Homo sapiens: one gene and its partner. Changing the gene in region 2 together with the main gene of any one other region gives a genetic interaction. Each region holds a gene or a part of one and is shown on either strand. Other genes may lie near its edges.

Evidence for each region.
Region 1: changes in SPOUT1 (region 2) and TCOF1 together harm fitness more than expected from each alone (negative genetic interaction), as found in Homo sapiens cells (one large-scale study listed by BioGRID).

Annotation. Positions count from the first base shown.
Region 1 is NC_000005.10:150,367,666-150,371,475, reverse strand, and holds part of TCOF1 (treacle protein), read right to left. Parts: intron 3,633-3,810; coding exon 3,559-3,632; intron 2,761-3,558; coding exon 2,574-2,760; intron 1,948-2,573; coding exon 1,874-1,947; intron 1-1,873.
Region 2 is NC_000009.12:128,823,291-128,827,100, reverse strand, and holds part of SPOUT1 (28S rRNA (uridine-N(3))-methyltransferase), read left to right. Parts: coding exon 1-69; intron 70-471; coding exon 472-561; intron 562-667; coding exon 668-717; intron 718-948; coding exon 949-1,079; intron 1,080-2,051; coding exon 2,052-2,124; intron 2,125-2,231; coding exon 2,232-2,330; intron 2,331-2,926; coding exon 2,927-3,029; intron 3,030-3,206; coding exon 3,207-3,354; intron 3,355-3,810. Other genes in the region: KYAT1-SPOUT1 (uncharacterized protein LOC127739546), read left to right, coding at 1-69, 472-561, 668-717, 949-1,079, 2,052-2,124, 2,232-2,330, 2,927-3,029, 3,207-3,354. UniProt on the Homo sapiens protein: S-adenosyl-L-methionine-dependent methyltransferase that specifically methylates the N3 position of a uridine in 28S rRNA. Required for association of the centrosomes with the poles of the bipolar mitotic spindle during metaphase.

The DNA of each region.
Region 1 (3,810 bases), on a different chromosome or scaffold from region 2:
TGAGATCCATCAGACCCCTTGCGGCCCTGGGTTTCTGGGGCGTCTGCTACTGGAGCTCTGCACAGCCTCAGCCCATTGAGGTTGTGTGTTTATGGAGGGCTGGGAGTGGTCTTCTTCCCTTTGGCAAGGCCTGGGGTGACAGAAGCCAGGGATGTCCTTACAGCTGGTGGTATCTAGGGCGCAAGGGTGAGGACGGAAGGTGGAGGGCAGCCCTTGGTAAGGCCTGGGGTAGATGGGGGTGAGCTTTCAACCTTCACAGGGTTACTGGGCCAGGCAGCACAGTAAAGTGAGAAGTTCCCTGGGCACCAGATCAGTTCATCCCTGACTTGTGCTGGTTTTCCCTTGAAAACATCTTTCCAACTGTGGACACCTTGGTCTCCCAGCCCCCAGCCTCTTATGCCAGTATCAGTATTACTCCAATAGTCTCCTACATGGTCTTACTGCTTTTATTCTGCACTGCCCTCCAACCCAGGCTGCAGCCAGCAATCTTATTAAATGCAAATCAGGCCATCTCTCCTTGCTGGCATGGCTTCTCACAGCCCCTAGAATAAAACCCAAATTCCTTATGGTGGTCCTCAAGGTCAGACAGAAGATCTGGCCCCTGTCTACCTAGGACTTCATCTTGTGTCACTTTCCCCATAATTTATTTGTTTTTTTAAAAAATAACATCTTGTAGAGACAGGGTTTCACTATGTTGCTCAGGCTGGGTTCAAACTTCTGGCCTCAAATGATCCTCCTGCCTTGGCCTCCCAGAGTGCTGCACTTACAGGTGCGAGCCACCGTGCCTGGTTTCTCCCTCTCATTTAAAGATCAAGGTTTTGGCCAGGCGTGGCGGCTCATGCCTGTAATCCCAGCACTTTGGGAGGCCAAGGCACATGGACCACTTGAGGTCAGGAGTTCGAGACTAGCCTGGCCAACATGGTGAAACCCTGTCTCCACAAAAAATACAAAAATTAGCCAGGCGTGGTGGCGTGCACCTGTAATCCCAGCTACTTGGGAGGCTGAGGCACGACAATCGCTTGAACCCGGGAGGTGGAAGTTGCAGCTAGCCAAGATCGCGCTACTGCACTCCAGCTTGGGTGACACAGTGAGACTGTCTTAAAAAAAGATCAATGTTCTTTAAAAGCACCAAACTCTCTTTGCCGCCTTCTCTGCACATGCCATTCCTTCTGCTTACGCCTACTCATCAACGTCAGGTTCCTGCCCTGCGTGGCCCTCTACATTTCCACTTCATAGCAGCCATCACCAATTAAATATCTGAGGGACGCTCCCTTGCCCCATGGCAGCAGGAACTCTGCCTGTCCTGCTCATCACTATATTCCCCAGGTCTGCCACTTAGTAGGTACACAATAAAAAGTAACCTGTGGAGACCTTTTCCAGGTCAAAGTTCACAAACCCAAGAGTCCTGCCCAACTCTAGCCAAGTGTCTAGGCCTGGCATTCACCAGTTGGCCCAGAACCCTCTCAGCAGCCGCAGCCCTAGCCAGACCACGACAGCCACACTGTTGCCTCTGGGCCCTGTTCTTGCCCCATTTCCTGTCTGGAATGCCCTGCCTCCTCCACATCCCTTCCCAGTGAAGCCCACTGTGCTTTGAGGCCCTACTCCAGGGCACCTCTCCCAGGAAGGCTTGTCTAGTCTCACAGGCAGGAGGGTGTCCCTCTCCTGCCCCCAGGGCTGATCTCACACTCAGAGTGCAGCAAGCAGCACCAGACTCCTCTCCCTGCCCCTCTCCGGCTGCAGCCTTTCCAGCTCCTGGTCACCCTACCACAGTTGCTGAACTCATCTGGGCCCACTGGTGTCTGAAGCCCCAGACAGGTTCCTGGAAGGGTTAGAGGCTGGGAGAGGGCAACTCCTAGGGATGGGTGGCAATTACCTCCACGTCTGTCTCATCACTGGAGCTGGAGGTGTCCTCGCTGGAGCTGTCGGCCTGGCCCGCTGACACCATCCCTGAGGATCGGACACGGAGGGGACTGAGGGACTCCCTTTCCAGCCTCACCTGCCCCTCCCCAGCACCTCCCCACAAACCAGCTGCTCATCAAAGCCAGGTGCTGAGCGCTCACCCCTCGTGTGCCTCACATGCACTGAGCTGTGAAGCCCCCTTCTGAGGTGGGTACCATCACCATCCCTATGTTCCCACACATCTCTGAGGCCCTGGGAAGGGCTGTGAGGGGACCCAACAAATATGCACCAGCACCTGACAGTCTACAGAACCTCCATCCACCATCATATCCACTGATGCAGGCCAGACAGATGTCTACTCTACATAGGAAACAGAGGCAAATCAGGCCTTTCAGTTTAGTCTCTGAGCTGCCAGTTGTCCCTGTAACTCACCAGGGAGTCATAAAGCAGAAAATGCTCCAACCACCAGGTGGGCTGTTCAGCCTGAGGCCAGGTCCCTGTAAGCTGACCCTCCCTCGTCTAGGTGATGAGAAAAGTCCTAAGATGCAGGAACCTGGCTGTCCTGGAGACAAACTTTTGATTCCAGAAATGTCCCAGAACTTAAAGCAATGCCTAGGCCTGCCTCACCAGCCCAAGTTCTGGGGACTAGGTTCCTAGAGGTGGGGACTTCTTACCAGGCTTGGCAGCAGCTCCAAAGGCCGGGACGCTGCCCTCCTCCTCAGTTTCTGAGACCAACGTAGTATTTGCTGAGGGCTCTGCTGACTTCCTGGGAGACTTCCCAGAAAGAAGGTTGGCCACCGTCTTCCCAGTGGCAGGGTGTGGCATGGAATTCCCAGTCTTGCCAGCTTTCTCTGTCTCTGCCTACAGAGAACAAGAGTGACAGACACATCTGGTATGGCATGGTGAACTAAGAGCACAGGCCACTTGCATCTGAACCCAATCTTACCACTTCTTAGCTGTGTGAGTTTGGGTAAACTACCCCTTCAATCTGTTTCCCAATCTTTAAAGTGAGGTTAAAAACAGCACCTCCTCTCACCAGAGGTGTTGAGAAAACAGAATCCCAGTTCTTGGGACATGGTAGTTATTTACTAAGTGGTAAGTAGCAGTTTGTTGTTGATCTTATCATTACTTCATAATTACTTTGAGACATTGTTGCTAATGCTCCAGGCAATCGCAGAGGCACAATTCTTTATACATGTATGTATCTAACTCTGCTTTCTGGATTATTAGAAAATGACACCTTGTTTTTTGAGCAGTTTCCAGTTTGGAAAATGCTTTTAGAGTTTCAGAACCACAGATGTCTTGATCACTACGGTGCCTCCACACCTAGCACAGTGCCTGGAACATAACAGGTATTAGTCAAGATCTGTTGAGTGAACGGGTGAACGCAGGCATGAAAGAGGAAAGAAATCGCCTACCCCAGGTGTAGAATGTGCCCAGTGGCCCACTGCAGCAGGCATCATCCTTATCTTTATAGAAAAGTAAACTGAGGCCCAGAGAGGTGAAGGGACTAAGATCCCACAACTGGTGACACAGGTTGAGCTCTGAATCCAGGTGGGGCAATTACTCACAACCCTATCCTTCTCTGACATGTAAGACTGTCCCCTACCAGGCACCTTAAATCCCATAGGCAATAGCTTGGAAGGCAGTCCCACTCACCTTGGCTTTTTCTTTCATGCTTGATGGCAAGTCCGCCCCCAGGACTGAGGAGTTGGTAGATGCTAGTCTTGGGGCTGCAAGAAACAAACATCTGCTAAAGGAGCCAGATGAGCTTTTCTCATCTATGAATGGCAAACAGGTTTCATCTCACCTAACAATTCTATTGGTATTGGCTGCCTGGTGCTGGCATGAGGATCTGAGGCTGAGCCCAGACTTGCAGGAATGAGCTCTGTGATGCATCAGCCAGGTCCA
Region 2 (3,810 bases):
TGCCAGAGCCTGTGCCATCTTCTGTGTGGATGAGATCGTGGTGTTTGATGAGGAGGGCCAGGATGCCAAGTAAGGGGCCATCCCACAGGGTGCCAGGGTTCAGGGAGAGGGAGGGGCTGCCGGGATGGGCCGAGGCTTCACCATGGCCCCGTCCACATGCCTGGCTCTTCCCTCGTGCCCTGCCTGAAATATTCCCTGTGTAATCCTTAGTGGGTAGAGTTGCCAGGTGGGGGTGATGACTACAGAGGTGGGATTGGGAGCCAGAAGGCCTAAACCTGTATCTCAGCTGTCACCCCGGCTGGAGTGCATGCAGTGGCATGGTCATGGCTCACTGCAGCCTCTACTTGCTGCACTCAGATGATCCTCCCACCTTAGCCTCCTGAGTAGCTGGGATTATACGCGTGCACTTGTAGACAGGAGCTCTTGAAGGGGCCACAGCTGGATCCTGAGCCCCCATCTCTCTCTCTCCAGGACTGTGGAGGGGGAATTCACAGGAGTTGGGAAGAAGGGGCAGGCGTGCGTACAGCTGGCCCGGATCCTGCAGTACCTGGAGTGTCCACAGTAAGGGGGTCACTCCCCTAAGCATGAGGGAGGGGTGTGTCAAAGTGGAGACCAGGTAGGAGGCGGCTTCCCCTGGGAACATCCTGAGGTCAGCATTCTTTCCTAGGTACCTGAGGAAGGCGTTCTTCCCCAAGCACCAGGATCTACAGTTTGCAGGTAACGCTGTATGGGCCCGCCCCCCCATTTCCCCTGGATCATGCCACAGACACTGAGACCACCCAGTCCTACCCTGCGCTGTCCAGGTGGGAAAGCAGGCCTGGGAGAGCAAGACCTGTGTCTGATGCCAAGACGCAGGTCTGTGGCAGAGCCGGTACTCCGCTCCAGGGTCCCCACTGCACCCTGTGTGCCCTAGCACTTCCCAGACTCTTCCCGGCTCTGCCTCCACAGGGCTCCTGAACCCCCTGGACAGCCCCCACCACATGCGTCAGGATGAGGAATCCGAGTTCCGAGAGGGCATCGTGGTGGATCGGCCCACCCGGCCAGGCCACGGCTCCTTTGTCAACTGTGGCATGAAAAAGGTAGGAACAGAAAGATGGGCTAGGACACACCTCCAGGACACACCCTGGCAATGGAGGGCAAGCAGATGGATGTTGCGGAGAGCCCTGGACCTGCCCGAAATCCCTCACTGATGCAAATTTGGGCCAGAGAATTGTGCAAAATGGGGCTCAATAGATAAAGCCAGGAATGAATTTACTGTTGCTTAAAAAGCAAATCAACAGAAGACAGTCCTCATGCTCCAAACAAAACCCTGCAGAAACAAGTTGAAAGTCACTCTGGAGCTGCTCCCATGTGGCACAGAGCCAAGCTGGGATGAGGGCATTAATTTGCCGCCTCTTTATCCTCAAGCCTCCTCAAATCAGAGGCAGAAACCTTTACATGTATGGAGTCCCTTCCTGTCAGAAAGCACAACCCAAGCGCAGTGGCTCACGCCTGTAACCCCAGCACTTTGGGAGGCTGAGGCAGGCGGGTCATTTGAGGTCAGGAGTTTGAGACCAACCTGGCCAATATGGTGAAACCCTGTCTCTAATAAAAGTACAAAAATGATCCAGGTGTGGTGGCACGCATCTATAATCCCAGCTACTCGGGAGGCTAAGGCAGGAGATTCACTTGAACCCAGGAGACAGAGGTTGCAGTGAGCTGAGATCGTGCCACTGCACTCCAGCCTGGGTGAGAGAGCCAGACTCCATCTTAAAAAAGAAAAAAAAGAAAAAAAAGTTGCAGAGCTACCAAAATGTAGAAAACTGAGTTTCATCTACTTCTATCCTGTGCCATGAGCGCCCCAAAGGTGCATGTTTGGCCAGTGACCTGTGTTTTGCACAAATGATCTCTTGTGAGCAGGTTCAGCCGGTGCCAGGGGTGGAGGGTGGCAGGTTGACCTGGACCCCTTGGTCCCTTGCCAGCCCCGGGGCTCCCCTGGTGGCATCTGGAAGAGCCGTGGCCCCTGCTGATCTTGAGAGGAATGGCACCCATTTCTTCTGGCTTCTCCCCAGGAGGTGAAGATTGACAAGAACCTGGAGCCCGGGCTTCGGGTGACTGTGCGACTGAACCAGCAGCAGCACCCAGGTATCTGGAAGGTTCCCCAACCCCTGGGTTGGCCTGATGAGCTCCAGGGTTCAGCCACCTGCTTCCATTCCCTCACCCCATCTTTACAGACTCTGTTACCCCTCCAGACTGCAAGACCTACCATGGCAAAGTGGTATCATCGCAGGACCCTCGCACCAAAGCTGGTCTCTACTGGGGCTACACCGTCCGACTGGCTTCCTGCCTCAGTAAGGACAGACCTTACTTCTCTGAATATCCATCCATCCCTCTGGGAGGTGGCCGGGAGCCTTGCCTGACCCAAATATCAGACCAGGGTTTTTGTCCTGTCAACTTGCTGTGTGTCCTTGGGCAAGTCCTTCCCCTTCTCTGGGCCTTGTTCTCCCTGGATGCACTGCCTGGAATGCTGTTAAGGACTACTGAGCAAAAGTATCATTATTGATCAATAATGTTTCTGTAGGGTTGGGAATGGAGGCAAAAGGGCCAGAGAAGTCAGAGGCCCACTTCATGTTCTTGGTGCCTCTTCCTATCCAGTCTCTGCCCTGTTCCCCAGCCAAGCACAGGCTTGGTGTCTGCCCTGCTCAGTCCTTGACTTTCCAGGAACAGCTCTACCCACCCCTGCTCGGTACACACACACCCCTGCCTCAATGCACACACAGGCAGAGCTCTACCCACCCACCCCTACCTTAGTACACACACGCACACACACACACACACACACCACACAGCTCTTCCCACCCACCCCCGCCTCAGTACACACACACATAATACCCGGAGCTATGGCTTGTGGGGAGCAGGACCTGCACTGAGCTGGCCCCACCCCCAGGTGCTGTGTTTGCTGAGGCCCCCTTCCAAGATGGGTATGACCTGACCATCGGGACGTCAGAGCGCGGCTCAGATGTGGCCTCTGCCCAGCTTCCCAACTTCAGGTGTGTACCTCCTGGGGCTGCGGCCAGGGCAGGAGGAATGTGGCCAGGAACCTGCCTGGTGGGTGAAGCTGCACAGATGGGCCCCTGCTGTCTGGGGTGGGGAGGGACTGAGGTCTGGGCGCTGTGCTGGGTGGGGCCTCGGTGGCCGCTCAGGTGACCCCCTCTTACATGGGCCAGGCATGCTCTTGTGGTGTTCGGGGGCCTCCAGGGTCTGGAAGCTGGAGCGGATGCTGACCCCAACCTGGAGGTGGCTGAACCCAGTGTCCTCTTTGACCTGTACGTCAATACCTGTCCTGGCCAGGGTAGCCGTACCATCCGCACGGAGGTGAGCCCGCCTGCCTCCCCGACTGCCAGCCACTGGGGCCTTGGGATCTGTCCGAGGGGCGGGTGCTACTCTTGCCCTGTCACCCACCCTTGCCCGTGGCTGCCTTGTCTGGAGGTGGTCCTCTCATCCCCCTTGGCCTCTTGCCACAGCGACGAGACATGAGTGTAGCTGGGAGTCAACCATGGGTGCTAGTGCCCGTCCTGTGCTCCCAGACTGGGTGACCCAGGGGGCCCTGCCCACCCCTGCTCCGGGCCTCTGGTTCCTTAGCCGTGCGCTCAGTGATCTCCCAGGGCCCTGGTTCTGCCACTTCCTTGTGTGTGACCACGGTGGGCACAGCAGCTCTCCCCTTGGGGTCTCACTTGCATCTGTCCCACGGGGGAAGCCACGTGCAGCTGGAGCCTTCGTCCTGGCCTCATGGAACCTGTGTACCCACTTTTGGGGTCAGGCATAGGACGC